Regions from separate parts of the Homo sapiens genome. Here all the other regions are reported to be linked to region 1. The links are microRNA targets in miRTarBase. Many come from high-throughput screens and were not tested one by one. Region 1 holds a microRNA gene; each other region holds the end of a gene's coding sequence.

Evidence for each region. The annotated mature microRNA hsa-miR-512-5p reads CACUCAGCCUUGAGGGCACUUUC and lies in region 1 at 1,505-1,527, opposite strand. An mRNA with a match to its seed (bases 2 to 7 or 8) in the 3' UTR can be bound and repressed. Matches are read on the target gene's strand: a 7mer-m8 pairs with bases 2 to 8, a 7mer-A1 pairs with bases 2 to 7 and ends in A, and an 8mer does both.
Region 2: miRTarBase lists GON7 as a target of hsa-miR-512-5p. The part of its 3' UTR that is shown has no 7-base or 8-base seed match.
Region 3: the mRNA of PCLAF is a reported target of hsa-miR-512-5p. Seed matches in the 3' UTR shown: 7mer-m8 at 1,770-1,776.
Region 4: miRTarBase lists CDC14B as a target of hsa-miR-512-5p. The part of its 3' UTR that is shown has no 7-base or 8-base seed match.
Region 5: miRTarBase lists SNAP23 as a target of hsa-miR-512-5p. Seed matches in the 3' UTR shown: 7mer-A1 at 2,195-2,201 and 7mer-m8 at 2,027-2,033.
Region 6: the mRNA of SETD9 is a reported target of hsa-miR-512-5p. The part of its 3' UTR that is shown has no 7-base or 8-base seed match.
Region 7: the mRNA of MYLIP is a reported target of hsa-miR-512-5p. Seed matches in the 3' UTR shown: 7mer-m8 at 1,026-1,032 and 7mer-A1 at 1,452-1,458.

Annotation. Positions count from the first base shown.
Region 1 is chr19:53,664,671-53,668,218 of GRCh38, reverse strand. It overlaps MIR512-1 (microRNA 512-1), which reads right to left and starts at 1,540; the gene lies at 1,457-1,540. All of the region lies in intron 2 of LOC107985342 (a long non-coding RNA gene), which reads right to left. RefSeq lists enhancers at 840-1,728, 1,729-2,616, 2,617-3,506.
Region 2 is chr14:93,200,502-93,204,049 of GRCh38, reverse strand. GON7 (GON7 subunit of KEOPS complex) reads left to right here. Exons shown (of 2, transcript NM_032490.5): 2 at 268-1,156. The coding sequence ends at 362. Among named protein-coding and RNA genes, the nearest start is that of GON7, 4.8 kb to the left of the region's middle.
Region 3 is chr15:64,363,207-64,366,206 of GRCh38, forward strand. PCLAF (PCNA clamp associated factor) reads right to left here. Exons shown (of 4, transcript NM_014736.6): 4 at 1,098-2,869. The coding sequence ends at 2,824. Among named protein-coding and RNA genes, the nearest start is that of CSNK1G1, 8.5 kb to the left of the region's middle.
Region 4 is chr9:96,500,871-96,504,418 of GRCh38, forward strand. CDC14B (cell division cycle 14B) reads right to left here. Exons shown (of 14, transcript NM_033331.4): 14 at 1-2,919. The coding sequence ends at 2,883. Among named protein-coding and RNA genes, the nearest start is that of HABP4, 52 kb to the left of the region's middle.
Region 5 is chr15:42,530,867-42,534,414 of GRCh38, reverse strand. It overlaps SNAP23 (synaptosome associated protein 23), which reads right to left. Exons shown (of 8, transcript NM_003825.4): 8 at 1,357-3,002. The coding sequence ends at 2,937. It also overlaps a transcript of LRRC57 not described here. Among named protein-coding and RNA genes, the nearest start is that of LRRC57, 16 kb to the left of the region's middle.
Region 6 is chr5:56,916,182-56,919,729 of GRCh38, forward strand. It overlaps SETD9 (SET domain containing 9), which reads left to right. Exons shown (of 6, transcript NM_153706.4): 6 at 634-1,167. The coding sequence ends at 721. It overlaps MIER3 (MIER family member 3), which reads right to left. Exons shown (of 13, transcript NM_001297599.2): 13 at 3,422-3,548. Among named protein-coding and RNA genes, the nearest start is that of SETD9, 8.4 kb to the left of the region's middle.
Region 7 is chr6:16,146,552-16,149,551 of GRCh38, forward strand. MYLIP (myosin regulatory light chain interacting protein) reads left to right here. Exons shown (of 7, transcript NM_013262.4): 7 at 111-1,697. The coding sequence ends at 200. It also overlaps the pseudogene LOC124901514. Among named protein-coding and RNA genes, the nearest start is that of MIR4639, 6.5 kb to the left of the region's middle.

The DNA.
Region 1 (3,548 bases):
GTCTCAAAAAATGAAAAACATTTTTGCTCTACAAGATTACATTTAATTGGCAACTACCTAGCTTTGAACCAGCAAGGGGAAAAGTAACAGAACGGCATGTCTGTCTCACTAACTTCTTGTTTTTTTGAGACAGGTTCTTGCTCTGTCCCCCAGACTGCAGAGCGGCAACACAGCCGTCGGCTCACTGCAGCCTCAACGTCCCTGGCCATACACAACTGCAGCATTTTGGCTAAACCAGCATGGCTTACAGAGAACAAGTAGTTCTTTCTCTCTCTTTTTTAAGACAAGCGTCTTGCTCTGTTGCCCAGACTGGAGTTCGGTGGCGCGATCTCGGCTCACTGCAACCTCCGTCTGCCGGGTTCAAGCAGTTCTCCTGCCTCAGCCTACCGAGTAGCTGGGACTGCAAGCCTGTGCCATCATGCCCAGCTAATTTTTTTGTATTTTTAGTAGAGATGGGGTTTCACCATGCTGGCCAGGCTGGTCTCGAACTCCTGGCCTTGTGATCCGCCCTCCTCGGCCTCCCAAAGTGCTAGGATAATAGGCGTGCGCCACTGCGTCCTGCCACAATAGTTCTTTCAATGGTAAGACTAGTTGAAAACCTGAGTTAGATGTGTATCTCTAATCTTAGTGATATTTAAATGTAAATAAAAATGTTATGTCTGGAACACACTTGGGCTGCTTGGGATATATTCAGATAAATACTATTATACATAATTTATAAATAAATACTATTTATTTACTAATAGGGTATCAGAAAGGTACAATCCCTATGTCTCCAGGTTGACATAGAAATTTTCTACTGGTCCGAAAGTTGCATCTGTACGACTGGCCAGTTGCTTCTGGTTCAACAAGGACCTAACCTGCCAATCACACAGGACAGCTGGGGGCTGACATTCCAAATTGTAATCTTTACTAGGCACAGAGGCTTAGCAGGCCTCTGGTTTAATAACACACGAAAGTAACTGCTTGAAGTAGCAAGGCACTCACTCACAAGGCACCTATAGAGTTGGTACTTATGGTCTGGAAATAGCCACATTGTAAGCTGACCACCAGTTATAATTACCAAATATTGGCAGGGCACAGGGGATCATGCGTGTAATCCCAGCACTTTGGGAGGACGAAGCAGGAGGATTGAGCCCAGGCCTCAGCTTGCTTCTTTCGCTGTGTTGTGACTTGCCTCGAAATTCTTTCCAGCAAGAGATCCAAGAACCCGCTTTTGGGGTCTGGATTGGTTGCCTCTTCTCTGGCAATGGTGTGACCCAGGCTATCCCTGAATCCAAGCATTATAGCTGCTACGGAACCCAGCCTCACAACCCAGAGACCGTGGTCATTTCCTTAAAGCTGGGCTGAAGTCCAGTTTATGGCGCAGAACAAGCACCACGGTTTAGCTTTTACCTGCAGTGGCTCCTGGAGCCCCCCGCCCCCCCTCCCCCCCATGGTGTTTCTTCGGTGCTCGCCTCAGTCATTGGACCTCAGCTATGACAGCACTTTCATTCTGGCACCAGAAAGTGCCCTCAAGGCTGAGTGCCACAGACTGAGAAGTACCCTCCCTGTATTGTCCAGTACCTGGAAACTGCAGGCACATCCTCTATGCAGAAGATAAGAGATTTAAAACTGACTTCTGAATGTTGCTCAATAGCGAAAGGTAGATTGAGCACTCTCTCCAGTTCTCAGGAACAATGCAGAGCCTTGTAATGCAAATCCTAGGCCTGCCCTGGGGCTCATGCCTGTAATCCCAGCACTTTGGGGGTCCCCAGCCTGAATAACACCTTTTACATTACTTTGTTTTCTTTTTCTTTTTCTTTCTTTTTTTTTCTTAGTCTTGCTCTGTTGCCCAGGCTGGAGTGCCATGGAGCGATCATCAGCTCACTGCAGCCTCCGCCTCCTGGGTTCAAGCAATTCTCCTGCCTCAGCCTCCTGAGAAGCTGGGATTACAGGCGCCTGCCACCACACCTGGCTAATTTTTGTATTTTTAGTAGAGACAGGGTTTCACCATATTGGCCAGGCTGGTCTCGAACTCCTGACCTCGTGATCCGCCCACCTCAGCCTCCCAAAGTGCTGGGATTACAGACGTGAGCCACCGCACACGTCCAGCACCTTTTAAATTACGTGGACAGGCCCGGTGTGGTGGCTCACCTGTAATCCTAGCAGTTTGGGAAGCCAAGGCAGAAGGATTGCTTGAGCACAGGACTTCAAAACCAGCCTGGGAAACATACTGAGGCCCCCTTCTCTACAAAAGATTTAAAACTCAGCTGGGTGTGTTTGTGCACACCTATAGTCCCAGCTACTCTGGAGACGAAGGTGGATCACTTGAGTCTGGAAGGCAGAGGTTGCAGAGAGCCAAGATCTGGCCACTGCACTCCACCCTGGGCAACAGAGTGAGACCCTGTCTCTTTAAAAAATAAAGAAAAGGAAAAAGCTGCCTTTGTGGACACCTAAATAAAAAATAAAATGAACCTAAAACCTACTGGGTGCAGTGGCTCAGAGGCCGGGGTGAGAGGATGTTTGTGCCCAGGTGTTGATGACCAGCCTAGACAATGGTGGGAGACCCCAACCCTACAAAAAAAAAAAAAAATTAGCTAAGCATGGTCCTGTATGCCTGCCATCCCAACTACACGGGACGCTGGGGTGAGGGAGGTTGAGGCTACTGTGAGTCACGATCTCACCACTGCACTCCAGCCTGGGAGACAAGCCCATCTGGGCAACACAGTGAGACTCAATCACTAATTGAACAAAATCCAAAAATTTTAAAAAATCAATAATGCGGTCCAGGAATGGTGGCTCACACCTGTAAACCCAGCACTTTGGGAGGCTGAAGAGGGCGGATGACTCGAGGCTTGGAGTCTGAGACCTGGCCAACATGGTGAAACCCCACCTCTACTAAAAATACAAAAACAATCAACTGGGCATGGTGGTGCATGCCTGTAATCCCAGCTACTCGGGAGGCTGAGGCAGGAGAATTGCTTGAATCCGGGAGGCAGAGGTTGCAGTGAGCCAAGATCACACCACTGCACTGCAGCCTGGGCAACAAGAGTGAAACTCCGTCTCAAAAAAAAAAAAAGAGTATTAGGGGCAGAGAATCAAGGTGTCGGAGTCATGACTACAAATAGAGAGGACTCAGTGTTGGAGATTTTAGGGGGAGTCTTACAACCTAAATGTGAGGCTCATATGACCCCGGGGGAAGTGCAGAAACACCATGGGAAGCCAATACTTACTGAACTCTGTGAGGACTTCCCATCCTGAGGATGAAAGGCAGGGCAGGGGCCCTGGAGCTCTTTTATACCCTAGGGACCACCCCACAGATGGAGAATGGATTAAAGTCTGGCCACACCCACTCTTTGCCCTCCAGCCTCCTCCCTGAATTTGATTTTCCTAGCTTCTGTAAATGCATTTCTTTTTCTTTTTCTTTTTCTTTTTTTTTTTTTTGAGAGGTAGTCTCACTCTGTCACCCAGGCTGGAATAGCATGATCTTGGCTCACTGTGACCTCCGCCCCCCAGGTTCAAATGATTCTCCTGCCTCAGTCTCCAGAGTAGCTGGGATTACATGC
Region 2 (3,548 bases), not on the chromosome of region 1:
CACTCCAGCCTGGCGACAGAGCAAGACTATCTCAAAAAAAAAGAAAAAAAGAGTGGATTTTATGGTGAATGAACTAATATTTCCAAAGAGGAAAGTGATAGAAAATAAAGATTTTAAACACTGAAATTCTCAAAATCATTTTAATCTAAAATGTGCAGGTTTTATTAATCCCTAAAGTGAAATGGTCTCATTATCAACCACTTTAGCTATATATATTTCTTTCAGCCATAGAACGTATTGTCATACAACAAATATTTATTTTAAAAGGTGATGATGAAGATGATGCAGAAGATGAAAATAACATTGATAACAGAACTAACTTCGATGGACCATCTGCAAAACGGCCAAAAACACCGTCTTAACAATAGCCTTCATGACATTTAAAAGATGGCTGTTGTATCCTTATTGTCACACTAGGACATTTAAGGAAGACTTATGCTCTAATTTGGAAAAAGCATTTGTGTTGTTCTCCTGGGACAATTTTGTCAAAGAGAAAACTGGTTTTTCTGTTTCTAGCAAAGATAGTAAAGGCTTAGAAATAAAATCTGTTTTCTTGAGAAATAAATTTCAGACCCTGGAAGGAAAATAGAACACTTCATAATGTATAAAATCCTCTAAGTTGGCAACTGAATTTTTATCATTGTTTTCTATTTTTAAAATAATCATTGATTTGTGTGATGTCTACATCTTTTAACTTCTGGTTCTGTTATAAAGAGTACATGTCACGGTTCATAGGCAGTAACATTTCAGAGAACTGACATGAACAAGTAGTGAAAATTGGGCATTAAATATAAAAATAACAGTTCTTCATAAACAGAAGGAAAATAAGGAAATAGAAATACCGACGAGAAAGGAGAGTCCTTGAAAGAGACCCAAGGAAACCCTGAATTCATACCCACGTCAAATATGCACATATCCTGAGATGATGCCACTTTGATGAATGTGCATTAGTCTGATTTATCATGTACCTTAAGAGAGCCAGATGGGGTATGTTTTTGTGCTGTGATATGGTATTTATACAGGTACAAATATAAGGCCTTAAGTAAACAATCTGCATTGATTACAATTTGGATATTTCCTCTCCTCCTGTAGCCATACTTTGATTTTGCTTTAAAAAGATTATTGAATCCTTTTAAAAATATATATTCCTAAAATATGTATGTGTGTGTGTTTCTTTTCTGCTCGTCAGTGGGACTAAGGCATTTTTATTTGCTGTGCATCCTTCCTGATTTAGATAGCTTCAATGCAAAGAAATCAAGTAGCATGTACCTAGTAAAATACAAATAGTCATGGAATTTTAGAGTTGGAAGTCACTTTACAAATTATGTGATTTATTTCAGAGATAAATCTAAGGATAAGTATTTGCCCTCAGATTACAGAGCTAACCATTGACAAACTGGGTTACATAAATAGCCTTTAGATTTTTTTTAAGCTGATAAAAGGTGAGAGAAGATCAACTTTTTTTTTCTTTTTTTTTTTTTTTTTGAGACAGAGTTTCACTCTTGTTGCCCAGGCCGGAGTGCAGTGGCACAATCTTGGCTCACTGCAACCTCTCCCTCCCGGATTCAAGCAATTCTTCTGCCTCAGCCTCCCAAGTAGCTGAAATTACAGGCATGTGCCACCACGCCCAGCTAATTTTGTATTTTTAGTGGAGATGGGGTTTCACCATGTTGGTCAGGCTGGTCTCGAACTCCTGACCTCAGGTGATTCACCCACCTTGGCTTCCCAAAGTGCTGGGATTACAGGCATGAGCCACCACGCCAGGTCAATTTTTTTTTTTTTCCCAGGGTCAACTTTTTTTTCAGATGGAGTCTTGCTCTGTTGCCCAGGCTGGAGTGCAATGGTGCGATCTGGGCACACTGCAACCTCCACCTCCCAGGTTCAAGCAATTGTCCTGCTTCAGCCTCCTGAGTAGCTGGGATTGTAGGTGCACACCACCACGCCCGACTAATTTTTATATTTTTAGTAGAGATGGGGTTTCACCATGTTGGTAAGGCTGGTCTCGAACTCCTGACCTCGTGACCCGCCCGCCTCAGCCTCCCAAAGTGCTGGGATTACAGGCGTGAGCCACCGTGCGTAGCCTTTTTTTCTTTCTTTCTTTTTTAAATTTTTATTTTTAGACAGGGTTTCACTCTGTCACCCAGGCTGGAGTGCAGTGGCACGATCGCGGCTCACTGTCACTGCAACCTCCGAGTCCCAGGCTTAGGTGATCTTCCCACCTCACCCTCTCAAATAGCTGGGACCACAGGCATGCACCAGCACACCTGGCTAATTTTTTTGTATTTGTAGAGATGGTTTCACCACGTTGCCCAGGCTGGTCTAGAACTCCTGGACTCAAGGGATCTGCCCACCTCTGCCTCCCAAAGTGCTGGGATTACAGGCGTGAACCACCATGCCCGGACTAATCAACTTTTATGAATCACTTTTATTGTGAAATAATTTAAGTGAAACTCAATTTACACACTTTTTCATATCCTTGAAATATTGTTTTAGTTGGAACAGCAAGCAGCCTTCCACTAAGTACTCTTGGGCAATCAAAACAGTGCCAACTAGAAAAAGTTATGGATGGTCAGAAATTATCTTTGTTTAGTTTATGTTGATGTTTCTAACATTTAACTTATTTATTATAGTACTGTTATCTCTATACAATCATTAAAGAAAAAACTGGTTGGGCACGGTGGCTGATGGCTGTATTCCCAGCACTTTGGGAGGCCGAGGTGGGCGGATCACCTGAGGTCGAGGGTTCGAGACCAGCCCAACCAACATGGAGCAACCCAGTCTCTACTAAAAATACAAAATTTGCCTGGTGTGGTGGCACATGCCTGTATTCCCAGCTACTTGGGAGGCTGAGGCAGGAGAATAGCTTGAAACTGGGAGGCAGAAGTTGCAGTGAGCCAGTGGTGCCATTGCACACCAGACTGGGCAACAAGAGCGAAACTCCATCTCAAAAAAGAAAAGAAAAAAACTTACCTGTATATACTGAAAAGAGAGCACATTGTTAAACTGATATTTGAACCTTTTCTCTGAACATTTTATGTTTCCTCCTTTGGAAAATGTGGTTATAAAGAAGAAATTTCAAGATAATATTTGTGTTTGTGTCCCAGTGTTTTTAGGTTCTGATTTATAAGATTGGTCTTTTAATTAATTTTAATACTGATTTCAATTCTAATACTGTCTTCTTCATAAGTAAGCCATGTGTTTGACAAAGATGGACCAGTATAGAAGAAATGCTTTGCCAAGTTGCCTAATCTGCTGCTGCTCTTGGGTCTCACTGTCACTCAGGCTGGAGTACAGTGGCGCAATCAGCTCACTGCAGCCTGGAATTCCTGGGCTCAGGTGATCCTCGCACCACAGCTTCCCAAGCAGCCAAGCACTAGGTGTGTGCCATCACGCCAGGCTAATTTATTTTTTATCTTATTTCTTCTTTTTTTTTTTTTAGACGGAATTTCGCTCTTGTTGCCCAGGCTGGAGTGCAATGGTGCAATCTTGGCTCATTACAACTTCCACCTCCCAGGTTCAAGCGATTCTCCTGCCTCAGCCTCACAAGT
Region 3 (3,000 bases), not on the chromosome of region 1:
GGCCTCCCAAAGTGCTAGGATTACAGGCGTGAGCCACCATGCCCAGTCTTTTTTTGCACTTTTAGTAGAGTCAGGGTTTCACCATGTTGGCCAGGCTGGTCTCGAACTCCTGACCTCAGGTGATTCACCTGCCTCGGCCTCCCAAAGTGCTGGGATTATAGGCGTGAGCCACTGCTCCCAGACTGAAGTTGAATGTAGGCATGTAATTGTTTCTAAAAAATTTGAATCTTGGCCGGCTGCAGTGACTCACACCTGTAATCCCAGCATTTTGGGAGGCCGACGCGGGCAGATCACGAGGTCAGGAGATCAAGATCATCCTGGCTAACAGGGTGAAACCCCATCTCTACTAAAAATACAAAAACAATTAGCAGGGCATGGTGGCAGGCACCTGTAGTCCCAGCTACTAGGGAGGCTGAGGCAGGAGAATGGTGTGAACCTGGGAGGTGGAGCTTGCAGTGAGCCAAGATTGCGCCACTGCACTCCAGCCTGGGCAACAGAGTGAGACTGTCTCAAAAAAAAAAAAAAAAAAAAAAATTCCCAGCACTTTGGGAGGCCCAGTCAGGCGGATCACCTGAGGTCAGGAGTTGGGAGTTGGAGACCAACCTGGTCAACATGGTGAAACCCTGCCTCTACTAAAAATGCAAAAATTAGCTGGGCGTGGTGGCGAGCACCTGTAGTCCCAGCTACTCCGGAGTCTGAGTTAGGAGAATCGCTTGAACCTGGGAGGCAGAAGTTGTTGTGAGCCAAGGTCAAGCCACTGCACTCTGGCCTGGGTGACAGAGCGAGACTCCATCTAAAAAAGAAAAGAAAAGAAAAATAGCAAATGAAGTGTCAGATCCATTAAAACTTGACTTCAAGATATTTTGTTTAAACTACTCCTTAAAAATAAACCTAATTATCAAATAAGTACTTGAACTCAGCTCCCAATTCAATAACATACTGTTTAATAATATCCACCTCTAAAAGACAAAGCAAAAAATATAATCTACAATCATTCGGACTCAAACAGTTTGGAAGGTGTTAAAATCAGGTCAATGCTCTGATTTGTATTTGGAAAGAATAAAATAGGACATAATTTTAGGAAGCACACAAATGGATAGTGTATTGTAAAAATAAGTATGCATTTATTACAAACGTATTTCAGAAAAATATGCCTACTAAAATATGATTACTTTTGACAACAGGCTGCTGCAAAAAGGGTGATGAGGAATATTATACCCACTTCTTCAATTATACCTCTGGTTATGTTGAAAAATGTCATAGTAGCTCTTAGGAGTTTTGCCATGCCTATGGGTTTATGGCATGATTTGCCTTTCATGTTATATTGACTTCCAACTTTAAAATTATATTTTATGATAGCGAATCAAATGCAAATCCTAGGAAAATTTCTTTTAAGAGATGGGATCTGGTTCCACTGTGTGTGCCACCATGCCAGGCTAATTTTTTATTGTTCATATATAAATATATATTTTTTTCTTTTCTTTCTTTTTTTTTTTTTAAGACATTGTCTCACTCTGTTGTTCAGGCTGGAGTGCAGTGGCACAATCTGGGCTCACTGCAACCTCCACCTCCCAGGTTCAAGCGATTCTCCTGCCTCAGCCTCCTGAGTAGCTGGGATTACAGGCATGTGCCACCATGCCTGGCTCATTTTTTCATTTTTAGTAGTGACAGTTTCACCATGCTGGCCAGGCTGGTCTTGAACTCCTATCTCAGGTGATCCACCTGCCTTGGCCTCCCAAAGTGCTGGGATTACAGGTGTGAGCCACTGCACTCAGCCTTTTTTAAAATTTTTTTTTTTTTTTTTTTTGAGACGGAGTCTCGCTCTGTCGCCCAAGCCGGACTGCCGACTGCAGTGGCGCAATCTCGGCTCACTGCAAGCTCCACTTCCCGGGTTCACGCCATTCTCCTGCCTCAGCCTCCCGAGTAGCTGGGACTACAGGCGCCCGCCACCGCGCCCGGCTAATTTTTTGTATTTTTAGTAGAGACGGGGTTTCACCTTGTTAGGCAGGATGGTCTCGATCTCCTGACCTCATGATCCACCCGCCTCGGCCTCCCAGAGTGCTGGGATTACAGGCGTGAGCCACCGCACCCGGCTAAAAATTGTTTTAGAGATAGGGTTTACGCTATGTTGCCTGGGCTGGTCTCCAACTCCTGGACTCAAGCAAACCTCCCTCCTCAGCCTCCTGAGAAGCCACTGTGCCCACCATGATTCTATCCTAGTATTTTATCTTTTTTCTTGTTGTTGTAGAGGCATTATCAACCGTTTAAACCCTCAAGACCAAATTATCTTTACATTTTTTTAAAGAGAAGATATCCATCCAAGGTTTTCCAACATTGCGTATTTGTCCTCCTTGCCAAAAAAGAGGGTAGAATAAGTAATGTTTAATTAATACTGAATTTTTTAATGTGCAAAAATCTAACTCTGCTTTTTAAAGCAAGTAGAAGGAGTGACAATATGGCACCATTCCAATAATCAAACACCAATAAAAATGGCAGCAGTACAACAATCTAAGCAAATCTCAAATACAACATACTTGTAATTAGAACACAATGCAATGACTTGATTTTAGCAAGAACTAGACACTTAATTTGGTAAAAGAAACCAAACAATGCATTATATTGAATACTAAGCTAAGTTACCATAATTAGTCTTACAAATTCTCAAATTTCACAACTACTTTTGAACATCTAAATTTAAACCTAAATTTTTTAATTAAATGCCTGTTCAACAAAGCTAATTGGAACAAACACATTTATGTAAATTTACATTCTAGAATACCAGGGTAAACAAGGAGACGTTATTCAAAGATGAATGAGAAAGTTCTATTCTTTTTCATCATTTGTGTGATCAGGTTGCAAAGGACATGCTCTGTGAAAAGAAGAGAGAACATCAATAGCCATCCAAGTATCAACTGTTTGAAAAAAATAGTTACAAACCTATATAAATCAGGAACATTAATTAACAGTGCAGTAGATCTGGTCTAATGACTAGAAATGAAA
Region 4 (3,548 bases), not on the chromosome of region 1:
GGCCATCCCGCCCAGCCCAGCGAGCACACTGGCCTCATAACAATGCTTGGGAACTCCTCTAAAACTTGCCTAGGCCCAAGAAAACAGAGAGGTAGCAATCACCCCTGTGAGAGGGCTAGAGAGGAGGGGAGGAAGTAGGTAGGGGACAGGCTAGGGGCATCAAGCTCAGAACAGGGGAATTCTGGAGGCCGCAGAGCTGCGTGCTGCCGGGAAGCACTGGCCACGCCAGGCCATTCTGCTCTCACGAGGCGCTGCTCCTCACCAAATTCTACAAAAAGCTAAGTCCGTCTATACTTCTAGGAACCCAGTTTTGCAGACGCTCTTCCTCCGGACTGTCCCTGACTTTTGATAATTTTGAGTCCCCAGAAAGCTTCAAGAGCACCTAAAAATATTCACTTCCAATTTTAATTCCATCGCAAACCGTCCCAGTGTACTTTCAGGGCTATTTAAGGCTCTTAGGTTAAGGGGATCTCTCCATCTGACACACAGTTTCATGTTCCATAGCAACAAGGTCTTCTATAACAACGACTCTAAGTCAGAATTCCAGAAGATTCTGGTTGTTTGTGGTTTCAGTTGGGGGTGAGGGGAAGAGTCCACTCTCATTCATAGCAGGAAGAACTTTCCATCCCTCAGACCCAGAGACTTCCTGGATGCTAGAGACAGTCCTCATAAGTGTAACACTGCCCTTGCTATGCACACCATCCCAAGTCATTTGGTTATTACAAGGAATGCCTCTTCACCAAATCACAAGTTTTCTATGACTAATTTCAGTGAACCAGTTAAATAGAAAGATTTTTAGAAAGAGCCACAGTGATAGCAATTCTAGGTGGAAACTTGAGCAGGCAACATGAAGAGGCAGTTTATAAAATGAAAAAGGGCTGTGGTTCCAGTGACACCCTTTCTTTTCTTGGACGAAACACCAGGAGGCTCATTCACCGTGAGGGAGACAGTACTCACAAGAGCTGTGGCGCCTACGTTTACTTGTTCTGATGGGATGAAAAGCCAAACTAAGAAGGGATCAGATAGAAGCACGATTTTCACAACTACCTGGATTATTATTAATGGAGGGGATGGCCTTAAAAGGGGTAAGGGGAAGAAGAGGTGCCCTGAGAATTCAATGCTTTATGCATGGCACAGTTTGAATATTTATATTGTCTCAGCTCAAAATAGCAAAAGGAATGTTCCTCCTCCCACCCAAATCTTATTGAAGAGTAGTCTGCCCACAGCCAAGTGGGTCTTTGTGCCTATTCATTTCCAGGGACAGAAAACCACTGTTTTTCTGTGATCCAGTCCCCAGTGTTTAAAAGCTGGCCTGACCCCACCCGACAGTGCCTGGCGGGGAAAGAGTTGCTTGTTTGGCTGAGAACACGGCATCTTCCGTCTCTCATGATGCCGGTCAATTTTATACTTTCTTCCAAGAAAGTACACCAAAATGGAGGCACTGCCTTTCAATTACTTTTTGCATTAAAGACTTTTAACTTGTTTATTCCAACCGCTTTTATTTCTTCCAGTTTTGTGAAAAAGGCAGCTTCTTAAAATGGAGTTGCCTACTAATCTGGCGCACGCCTTGTGGCTTAGGAGGGCATTTGTTTCCCACTGCCTGTCGACATCTCAGCCCTCCATGCTCCCGGCACAGGCAAAAATGGCTTAACAATCATTAAACCACCCACTTCTTATGGAAGGAACTGAGGTGAGTACTATATATTCTTTTATTTCGGGCCCCATTTTTTTTTTTTTTTTTAGCAGCACATCAATTCTGTTTCTGTAACTGCTTCATGGCACAGACTCTGCTGTGTTCCAGTAGGGCTGCGGGAGAAGGCACTCTGCAGAGTTACTAGTTGTGTTCCCTAACCAAAGGCAACAGTGAGATCCAGAAGCAGATCATTGTCACTGAGATCGCAGGCCACGTCAATGGCCTTAGGTGGATCTCATAAGGGAAAAAAAAAATCCAATGTTACAGGGAAGGACTCTAAAAAAGTGGTAACTTTTTTTTTTTGTAAGCCGACATTATTTGGGATTGCTGTTTCCAAGGGGAAAAACCAATAGTGTGTTTCTTCCATTCATGGAAGGAAATATGATTTTAATTTGTATGACTGGCAACCAAACAATGGGCAGCCTCCCAGTTCTTCAGTCCCTGAAGGACAGAAAAAGGAACGACTTGCAACATCTTCCAACTCTGAAGTCAGTTTCTCCTCCTGAGTCTTCTAAAGCTACCATTAATATTCTCTTGCAAGTTTTAGGTTACTAAGGTACCACCTGGTCTTACAACATGCAACAGTGTTTAAATGTGATTTTCACAGATTCTTGTTAATAAAGCACTCTTTGGTGGAAGACAAGCAGCTTGGGTACTTAACAGAGTTAACATTACAACAGTATTACAAATAGTCAAGTGAAGATGATTAAGCCAAATAGTATCAAATTACAGAAAGTACCATTTCAGTAATGCCTTTTGTATCTTTATAAATTTTGACACAGGGTCACAAGGTGAACAGAAAATAAATACATAAAAAACCTCCATCAGATCCTCAATTCTTCTGAAGGCCAGCAACTACAATGATTGCCATCACAGGGACACACATGCACCACAGACCAGCCAGCTCCCTGGGTACCAGAGGGCTTGGGTATTTACACCTGAGACTAAATTTACAACAGCATGTTTGTCATTCAGCTTGAGAGCTGGACCCTTCTCTGAGTCATTTGCTTGCACCCAAACTCAAAGTTCATTATTCAAACTCCAGTGGACATTTTCTCCATTGATCAACTTCTTAGGTGGAAAAAGCAACTAAGGCTTTTGCAATTTTGTTTTGTTTTCAAATTGTGCTAATTTCTGTTGCAGTTTTCAGTCCTAGAGTCTTCCTTCAGCTCTGGTCACAGGTTTTTACTTAACGCAAGACTGTTTTAGTCCTTGAAATGGAGAGACTACAGGGGGAAAAAAAAGGATTTTTACCAGAAAGTTTACACAGCGTCCACAGGCAGTTATCAAAGACAAGGAGGGCAACATAATAAAAATACTGACATGCTAAAAAGTATACGCTTGCTGTAAGTTTCTAATGACAAATACTTTGGAGAAGACAACACAATATCAACCACAAAGGAAAGACAAACAGGAGAAAGGCAGGGCAGAAAAAGGCTCAGTTCTGCAAAAAATAGAAATTTAAAAAAACCAATACGAGTAAATAAAAATCATAAAAGACGGACGGGCAGGGGCAGCAGGGCCAGGAAAGTACCATGACGCCGCCAGGGGCACGTGCTGCAAAGCACTCCTTGTCCTTCCTTTCCTCTGAGGGACCAGGCTGTGGGAGGAGCGGGCAGAATGAAAAGATAGAGAACTGTTACTGGGTTATTTCAAAAGCCAGAATTTGGTCACAGAAAAAGCTCTGGCACCTAAGCGGCTTCCAGCTCCACCGAGCACAGGAGGCACCCCACGGGCTACCTGCCTCCGCACTCCACGATTCTCATCCTGCCTCTCTTCTCTCCTTCCCCAGTTCACGACGCTACACTTTCAGGTCAGTAACAACTTTCAGAAAGCAAACAAAACCAAAATAAGA
Region 5 (3,548 bases), not on the chromosome of region 1:
GCTCACGCCTGTAACCCCAGCACTTTCGGAGGCAGAGGCGGGTAGATCACAAGGTCAGGAGTTCGAGACCAGCCTGACCAACGTGGTGAAACCCTGTCTCTACTAAAGATAAAAAAATTAGCTGGGCACGGTGGTGCCTGCCTGTAATCCCAGCTACTCAGGAGGCTGAGGCAGGAGAATCGCTTGAACCCGAGAGGTGGAGGTTGCAGTGAGCCCAGATCACGCCACTGCACTCCAGCCTGGATGACAGAGCAAGACTCCTTCTCAAAAAAACAAAACAAAACAAACAAAAAAGAGACTTCAGTAGAGGAATTACAGGCACATGCCACCACACCCAGCTAACTGTATGTTTAGTACAGATGTGGTTTCACCATGTTGGCCAGGCTGGTCTCAAACTCCTGACCTCAAGTGATCCATCTGCCTTGGCCTCCCAAAGTGCTAGGATTACAGGCGTGAGCCACTGCGCCTGGCCCATGGTAAAGTATTTTAAATTAAGGTATATACATTGCTTTTTAAAGACATAATGCTATTGCACATTTAATAGACTACAGAATAGTGTAAACAGAACTTTTATATGCACTGGGAAACCAAAATTCATGTGCCTCACTTCATTGCAATACTAGCTTTATGGTAGTGGTCTAGAACTGAACCCTCAGTATCTGAGGTATGCTTGTATTAATCTGCATTTACAGACAAATTAAGGCACAGAAATGATCTTACAGTCACTTCAGCTAGAGTGAAAATTCAGATAATGCCTCAGCCCATGCTTCTAACCAATCATACTGTGAGTGTAGCATGCTGGTATTCTCAGAACTATTTCCTTTATCCAGAACAGTGCTAAAATTTTTTTTTATGGTAAATGGTTTTAGGAAAGGCATTTAGGTAAAGCACAATCCTCCGTTTTACACCTTACTTTACATATTTACCATCCCTGCCAAACCACTCATTTTGACATGGAGCATTTCTATTACAGAGGGTGTAGTTGCATCTCACTTTATTTAAATATTTTCCTCTTTAGCCTTTGAAAGCTCCCACATTAACTGTATCTTCTCCAGTGAGTTGTAGTTCTCACACAGAACCATTACCCTTCCAGTCACTAGTGTATTTAAGCTCAAGTGAGTAAGACTAGTAATGATTAAAATGAACCTCACAATAAATTTTTAGCAAGGTAAGTTTAAGTCCCATCAATATTTTCAATAAATACTGGAAAGATGCTAAAGGCAGCTTCCTGCTGTAGTGTTTCTTGATGTATGGATCTTTGCTTTATTAATTTGTTAAATGAGAGCTGATGAAACTATTTTCCCCCAAATAACAGTCATAGAAACATGTTACCTATTTGAAAGAACAATACCATTAGTTAGTTAAAAAATTTAATTGTAAGGATCAAGCAGTGGTTATTGGTGAAACCAATACACACTGACAGCTTTGAAGTGTTCAGATGCTAATTTTAAAATAAATGTGACAAATACCAATCAGATGTTCATAACACTTTTCAGGATCCACATCAACTTGATTATGGACATAGTTCAATACACAAGGGTAAGAGAAAGAGTGTGTAATCACCAATAATTAAACCAGAGGCATAATTTTTTCAAATAATTTTTAGTTACAGAATAAATTCTAACTTTTTAAAGTCTAAAGCTACATAAAACTCAAAGCAATCTATTTTTCTACCTGAGGTCAAAATGACTTTCCTTTTTCCTAACTAAACATAATTCTTAGCATTGAGGTAAATCTGAATTCATGTGGTATGCTTTGTCAAACTTTTCCAAAAAATTTTAAGCCCTGCTTTAGAGAGAAATTCTCATGTTACACATATATATTTACATATTTTTTCTTCAAAGACTAATGACAATGTATGATGTTAATAGGCCTGTAATGGAACCATGATACTACTAATAATATGAAATAAAAAGCCACTCATTTATATAAAGTGTTCCTGAATGGTGCAATAAGAAATGGGATCACAGATTTATGTACATATATGAATCACTAAGAGTTCAGAAATTAAGCTCACTTTAAGAAAACTCAGCCAGGCACAGTGGCTCACGCCTGTAATCCCAGTACTTTGGGAGGCCAAGGCGGGTGGATCACGACGTCAGGAGTCCAAGACCAGCTTGACATGGTGAAACCCTGTCTCTACTAAAAATACAAAAATTAGCCGAGCGTGGTGACACACGCCTGTAATCCCAGCTACTCAGGAGGCAAGGCAGGAGAATTGCTTGAACCAGGGAGGCGGAGGTTGCAGTGAGCCCAGATCGCGCTATTGCACTCCAGCCTGGACAAGAGAGCGAGACTCTGACTCCAAAAAAAAAAAAAAGAAAGAAAACTCATTCTATTTTTCTCTTTGGAGCAGAGGTTGCAAAACTGTGATGCCTAACAAAAACGTTGTGTATAAAAGCTCCAAAACCAAGCATTAGCCTAAATTGGCTATAACTGCAACTTAAATCAAAAACTATATCCAACTAGATCTTCGTTGTGGCTATGCAACTTTTTGCTTTGTGGCCTGAAGGTTTTTACTGAGGTAACAACCTCTTATCTCTTGTCCTTCCCTCAACCACAAAAGCAAAAATAAACAACAACAAAAAACACCTCTACAGCTTCCTTCTTCATGGCTGTCTTTGGCAATGCTTCCAAATCTTGAAAGCAAAAGAACCTGCTGAAGTATATGAGGAGGATGAAAACACTAAACATGACATATGAAAACCAATCTAAGCGTATGAATTGAGAAAGAAAATACTAGAAGGAAGGCAGAGCAGCAGTCGGCCCTCAACAGAAAACAAAAAAGAAGGAGGGCTGTAACTGCTCTGGCCCTTCTTCCATATTATCTCCCAATTAGAAGAGCGTGGAACCGAAAACTTAAACTCTGAAAAGGTAATAACTTTCAAGGAGGAGCTACGGAAGTGAATAAATGATAAAGAAGAACAGCAGTAGCTTTAGCTGTCAATGAGTTTCTTTGCTCTGGCATTGGCAATATCAATACGATCTCTGTTGGTGTCAGCCTGAAAAACAAGAAAGATATCAGCTTTACAAGGTAAGTAACTCTAATAAAAATTAAACTTTTTACACTTGGAGTAACTGACACACCAAGAAAATCCAAGAAACCACGTGAAGTTACATTACAAAACTCATGTTGGGCAAGAAGTAACAGAATATGAAATTCATTTGGAAAACCCCTGGTATATAAACATGACAAAGGTGTAACATATAAGACCTTGCCAATATTTCATAAATTCTATAACGCATTTTTTCATAGTTTAACATGCCTGAAACTGGGATGCATCCTGTAATCAATGGCATTTTTTGATGCAATGAAATATGAAAGAGTGCTCTTCTCTGTTAAAGATCTGGACCTTGTGTGAGTCCTCTGAACTGAATCATAGAATCTCATCTGGATTCAGACACCCTAAGTCTAACCTGGAGAGACTGAAATAACCTTTCCAAAGATCTTTGAAACGAATCTATTACCATCCTCACCAACATCTGAATTAAAATGACAGGTAAATATAGCCTAAACCCAGACTGCAGCATTTAAAGCATCTTGTGAA
Region 6 (3,548 bases), not on the chromosome of region 1:
AGGAGTTTGAGAACAGCCTGACCAACATGGTGAAACCTCATCTCTACTAAAAATACAAAAATTAGTCAGGCGTGGTGGCACGCACCTGTAATCCCAGCTACTCAGGAGGCTGAGGCAGGAGAATCGCTTGAACCCGGGAGGCAGAGGTTGCAGTGAGCCAAGGTCACACCACTGCACACCAGCCTGGGTGACAGAGTGAGATTCCATCTCAAAAAAAACAAACAATATTTTATGATGTCCAGAAAAAAGCATTTTTTTAAAACTCCAACTAATTTTAAGTAATGTTTTCATTTTTCAGGATATAAGATACAAATGAATGCAAGAAAAACTATAATGTCATTTTAAAATCCTTTTTGTGATACTAGTTTTGGGGGCCTAAACTTAGAAACAATGTTTTCAGAAGAAGTAGTCAGTTGTATAAACATTGATTTGTGATTTTTTAAATGATATAGATATACTCTTTAGAATACCTGCATCAGGAATAAGAACTATTTCCTCATGGAAATCAAATGCATAAACTAAAATGGAAGGAACCTGAGTAAAGTTACCTCTATAAAAGCCATCTTGGTTATATTAAAAATATGAGCTTATATTTGTTAATGCTCTACCTTTTGTATATCTTTTTGTTTTCAGCCCACTTCGATGTGTTGTTCTTGTCGCACTTAGGGACATCAATCAAGGAGAAGAGCTTTTTTCAAACTACTACACAATTGTCAGCTAACTCTGTGAATCAGAAATTATTAGGTTTTCTACTCAGCTATTAATTCTAAGTGTTTTTTGTTAATCACTTCTCTGAGTTCTACCTGTAAAACAAATATTTTGAGACTTAATTGGAATAGGAATTTCTTATGTTTTTGTTGATATTATATTTATGTTCCAATTTCATGATAAAAGCTACTTGCTTCATTACAATTTCAAATTTGTAATGCAATTCCAAGTTTAATTGGTTTTCACCTAAATACACAATAGCTTATTAAATTAAAACCTACTCTTTGAACTTATAATTTCAATTTTTCTTTTGTTTATTTTGTAAGCTCTGTGGTGGTTTATAAAATTGTAGCCAGGCATCAGCAGTTCTTGTAGTACTGCTGATGTGTACAAACTTCTGTAAAAACTTTATTTTTACAGAATTGAGTAAAAAATACCTATTGTGTTGCCATGAGTAAATTGGTGTGTCTATGTATAATGTAAAGATTGCTCTAGCTGGCTGAGGGGAAAATGTGAGGTCATTATTACTATTTTCTTTACTCTTTGAACATTTTCACACCAAAGAAAAGGTGGAAAAAAAGTGCAAGATAGTGTTGGTGGGAGGAACACTTATTCCCCGTGTCTCATGTCTTCATGTGGAGGGCTTCCACTGGTTAATGTTCCTAGCCTCTCTCTCCACCCACTGGAGGGAGATTGACTCCCTGATTATGTTTGGAGAATAACTAGGCACCCATGTCCTATATACCCTTCTAGTTCCTTCCCTGTGGACTCTGGCTGCCAGCAGAAAGAATGTGTCCTGGCAGTTCTCTGCCTTGTGCAGAGAATAGCCTGTAGCCAGCCCAGCCAGTGACAGAGTGAGTCCAGAGGTGTAATATATTGGCAGGCCAACCTGGCTGCAGCCCTGAAGCTACCTTCCCGTTTTATTAGCAATAGTTACTTTGACCTCCATCGACCTGACTCCAGCTCTCTCAGTTCCAAACTTGGATAGGAAGGAGGGTGTTCTTTACTGGATCCCTCAAAAATTCATGGAACCTATATGACCAGATTCTGATTACCTTCACTTCCTTACCACCAGCTTTACTCACCTAGTTTATTGCAATTTCAGTAGCCTCTCAATTGCCTTCCTTGTTTCCACTCCTGTCCCCCTTACAGAACATATCACCAAGTGTGATTCTTTTAAATGAAAGTCAGGTATTGACATACGTCTGCTCAAAACCCTCTCCCTATCATGGAGTAAATGCTGAAGTCCTTCACATGCATAACCTGCTCATGACCTCAAGAGCTCCTCTCCTTTCTCCCCTTGCTCACTCCATCCCAACCCACACCTGCCTCCTGGCCACTCCCCAAACCTGCCAGGCACATTCCCAACCAAGGACTTTTGCACTTAGTTCTCTCTGCCTGTAAACATCTTCCCCCAGACAGCCACATAGCTTGTTCTCTCCCTTCCTGTCACCTCAGTGAGGAGCGTTGCCTCATCACCCCACTGAAATTTACAATCCCTCACTGCTCCCAACCCTGACATATTCCTCATTCTCTTTAGCACTTACCACCAGCAAGCTCAAAAAGCGTACCATAGATGGAAATTATGGCCAAAATGACTTCTAGTAACAGATGTACTAGATTATCCTGCTTCCACAGGCTTTTCCGTCTCCTAAAGCCTGAAAATACTCTGAGCTCTCACATGGCACATTGTTGCATTCTTGCTGTATTCGGAATATGTGTGCTTGTCCCTGCTCTGAAGGCACTTCTGTGCATGTGTCCACCACAGAGCCCTATGTGCTAAGGTCCTTTCGTGTCTGACAAGGAAGGGATGTGGTTTTAGTCAAGTAACCAAAGCAGAGGAGTCAAGATTTTTGCTTTCCTTTTATCCCCTTCTTGGCCTTGTACAAACTTTGGATATTATGGGCAAGCTGATCACTGCATCTTAAAAATGGAACTACATAAAGCTCTGGTCAGAGGAAATGAAATATGGGGACAAACTTGTGAAATAATGGCAAGATAGGAGCTTTAGCTTAAAAAGATGTTTAGGAAAGATAGATATGACTACGGTCAAACTATGAATCGTATGGATAAGGAAGACTAGTTGACCATAAATGTAGTCTGTCAAATAATAATAATATTTGACCAAATTTCAGATCTGTCTGTCTTCATAAAAGACAGTTACCTAGAACAGCGTTTGAAACATAATAAATGTTTCCTGAATTAAACTAAAAGTATAATCCTTACTTTGGGACTTCTTTTTTTTTTTTTTTTTGAGATGGAGTCTCAGTCTGTTGTCCAGGCTGGAGTGCAATGGCAGGATCTCAGCTCACTGCAACCACCACCCCCAGGGTTCAAGCAATTTTCCTGCCTCAGCCTCCTGAGTAGCTGGGGTTACAGGCATGCGCCACCTCGCTCGGCTGATTTTTGTATTTTTAGTAGAGACGGGGTTTCACTATGTTGGTCAGGCTGGTCTTGAACTCCTGACCTCATGATCTGCCCGCCTCGGCCTCTCAAAGTGTTGGGATTACAGGGGGACTTTTATTATAGATGGAAATTATAGAGGATTTAAGGAAAATATTTAATCTACCAACTTCACTATCTATCATATATCTTATTTACTGCATCTAAAACCAATTTAACAGTGGTATAATATCTATCTATTTGCTGTAGCTTAAGATTCATTAAATAAAATATCTGTATTTTTGGCAAATATTCACACAAACCAAGAAAAAAAGATTCCCAGATTTTTATTTCTGGAACTGTACACCAGGTATTAAAGTACAACAAATACAAAATAATGCTCAAAAAAATCAGTGTTTATGTACAAATATTAAAATCAATGCAATAGCAACTTCCTC
Region 7 (3,000 bases), not on the chromosome of region 1:
ACAATTGATTTAGAAAATTAAATGCACTAGAGACCAGGGGTGTGCACAGAGACACAGGCCCCCCACCGAGGCTTGCATGCTAACAGAGACTGTTGGCTTTTCTTTCCCAGTCATGTCCCGTCTGCAGGTCGCGTGTGGAGCATGTCCAGCACGTCTATCTGCCAACGCACACCAGTCTTCTCAATCTGACTGTAATCTAATCTGTTGTGCTTTTGTTGGACTTGGCATGTTTCCATGAACTGCACTATTATAAACTATTAAAATGATAGATTGTGGAGAAAGTAATTATTCCAACACCCATCTGCCATGCGATGTTAAAAAAAAAAAAAAGGAAGAAAAATAACACAGCTACTCCTCACTGCAAAAACATATCCATGCGTAGAATCAACAACTCCAGTCATGGGACCAGGAGGAGCTCTGGGACGCAGACACATTCCTTGGATGTTGATTTTTTTTATGATCTAGTAAAGGAATAGGTAAAGTCTTTGATGTCAGTGAAGTGGCAACATAGCCAAAAAGTTGGGTACCTTTTAGGAAATGATGTTGTAAGTCTCCTTAATGTATCCTGAGGTAAGTTTCCTACTGGCAGCAGATTTTGTAAGAATTACTTTTAAGAATTTCATTCTTTTTGTATGGTCATGGAGCTCCAACCATTTTTAATAGGAAAGTCTTTTGTAAATTGTTGTCGTTTTAATGTCATTTCTGTCTTTATAACTTGATCAAGAATGATTGGAAGGCAAACAGGTTTACAAATCAATTCTGTGACTTTTAAAAAGTTGACAATGTTGTCAGATTTAAACCAGTGTGGCTAGTAAAAAGCAGCTCACTCAATGTGGGTGGCTCCCTATTCCTTTACGCTCCCCCTATCCCTACCCCACAAGCCTTTCGATTATAAAATACTACCAATCTTGTTATAAGATTACTGTGGAGTAGTCAAGTACTCCCCGGGCCTTCTGAGCTGGTGGAATATTTTATTTCAGACTGAAAACAGAGAGCACTCTCCTTGGGAAGGGAAAGCGGAGCTTGCTGAGTGAGAGATGGAGCCTCATGGTGTACAACTGAGGGTAGTTAACTCATCACTTCTCCCAAGCACTCGATCCCAGCTTCACCCACTGGTGTTGCTTTGCTTGAACTGTTCAAGCCTTTTATAGCCTTACCATAAGTATTTAGATATGGTGTCCTTTTCTGTTTTTGGGGGGGGAGTTTTGTTGTGTTTTTTTAAAGTAAGTGCTTAAGTATTAACTTTGGGTTGTCCCCTCTGTATGTTTCGAAGGGGTTTTGGTTCTTTTTGCTTCTGTTTTCTTAAACATGTTTTCCACTCCCACTTGGGCATTTTGGAAGCTGGTCAGCTAGCAGGTTTTCTGGGATGTCGGGAGACCTAGATGACCTTATCGGGTGCAATACTAGCTAAGGTAAAGCTAGAAACCTACACTGTCACTTTACTGAGATTTCTGAGTATACTTTTCATATTGCCTTAATGTAGCAGTAATGTGTTTATGCATTTGTTTCTTTGCACAGACATTTTGTCAAATATTAAAACTCTACTTTTTTATGGCACATATTAGCATATAAGCCTTTATTCCAAGAGGTATTTATTTTTTCACTTGTAAAAAAATAATGTTTCCACGTAAAGAACTCTGTTATATCCTAGAGGACTCTGTCTTTTATATTCGGGATAATAAAGACTTTAAAGCAAACATGGATGTGTGTATTGTCATTTAAGCCAGTTTTATTTCATTTCAAAGAAATAAGCAAGGGGTAACATCACAGTTAGTATCTACTTTCCTCCTACCGGGAATTTAATTTTTTTTTTTTAATAATTTCGGTGCTCTACAAATTCAGAGAAACTTCTTTAGTAACAAACTATAGAAATGATCCTTGAGAGTATAGTCTTTTTTTTTTTTTTTCAAGAAAACTTGAAAATATTTGTGGTATTGGTTCTAATGGAGATCACTTCACCAGGTTATTCTCTTATTTATGTCTTTGGGTGGTTAGATTGGTATGTAGGGGAAAATGGGGTCATGAACATAAGCAGATGAAAAGAAAAAATCAGGACAAGTACTGGAAGCTATTGGAGAAGGAAGGAAGTGGCAAAGCTGGAAGTTAACAATTAACAACCCAGCTGGTGCTGCTGGTGTGTGGCCTGCTCAAGACAGGGGAGTGGCCTGGGTCATAGCAGTAAGGGCCTCGGGCTACAGAAGCTCGGGCTGTATTCCTGCAGGACTGCTGGTCTACTCCTGCTAGGTCCTAACTGCTCTATGCTTGCCAGTGTGTGCTCATCTGTGTTTCTCCAGAAATACATTTTGGAATAGAGAATATTGTACATAATATATATAAGTGATAATTATCTGTAGCAATTGGAAGAAGTAAATTTATTTTTTTTAATTAGAGGCAGGGGTATTTGTTTTTACTGTACCTATAACCTAAGTCAATCTTCCATCAATTTCTAGGAATTAACTAATTTGTTCATTCAACACATTTATTGAAACCTACTAAGTTATTGAGCCCTGGAAATTTAGCAGTCATCAAGACATAAATGATTCTGGATGCCTGTATCATGTACTTAGCCTGTAACGTGTACTTTTGTCTCTGCGCGGAAGTTAGATAATATGCAGAATCCACGAATACTAGCATCAGAGGGAGTCTTGGGCATACCAGTATCAAAATGCTAACCAAGTTGATGGAGGGATGGATGGATGACAGGCTGACAGATAAGATTACATATTATTCACCCCACTAGACCATATGGACGCCTTAAGCTCAGTGACTAACATGAAAACCACTATATTACATGGTGGCATCATAGAATTAGAAGGGAAGAACAGTGGAGGCACAGGAGGCAGGGATTCATTGTGCTTAGGAGCCAAGGATAAAGGTGCTTCATAAAAGATCTGAGCAGATCCTTGACATTCTAGTTGGAAAAAGAAAGTGCATAGCCCATGCCAGGGCTGGAGCACAGTCTGCTGGGGCTGGCCCACCCGCTGCATGTCAGTGAACTGG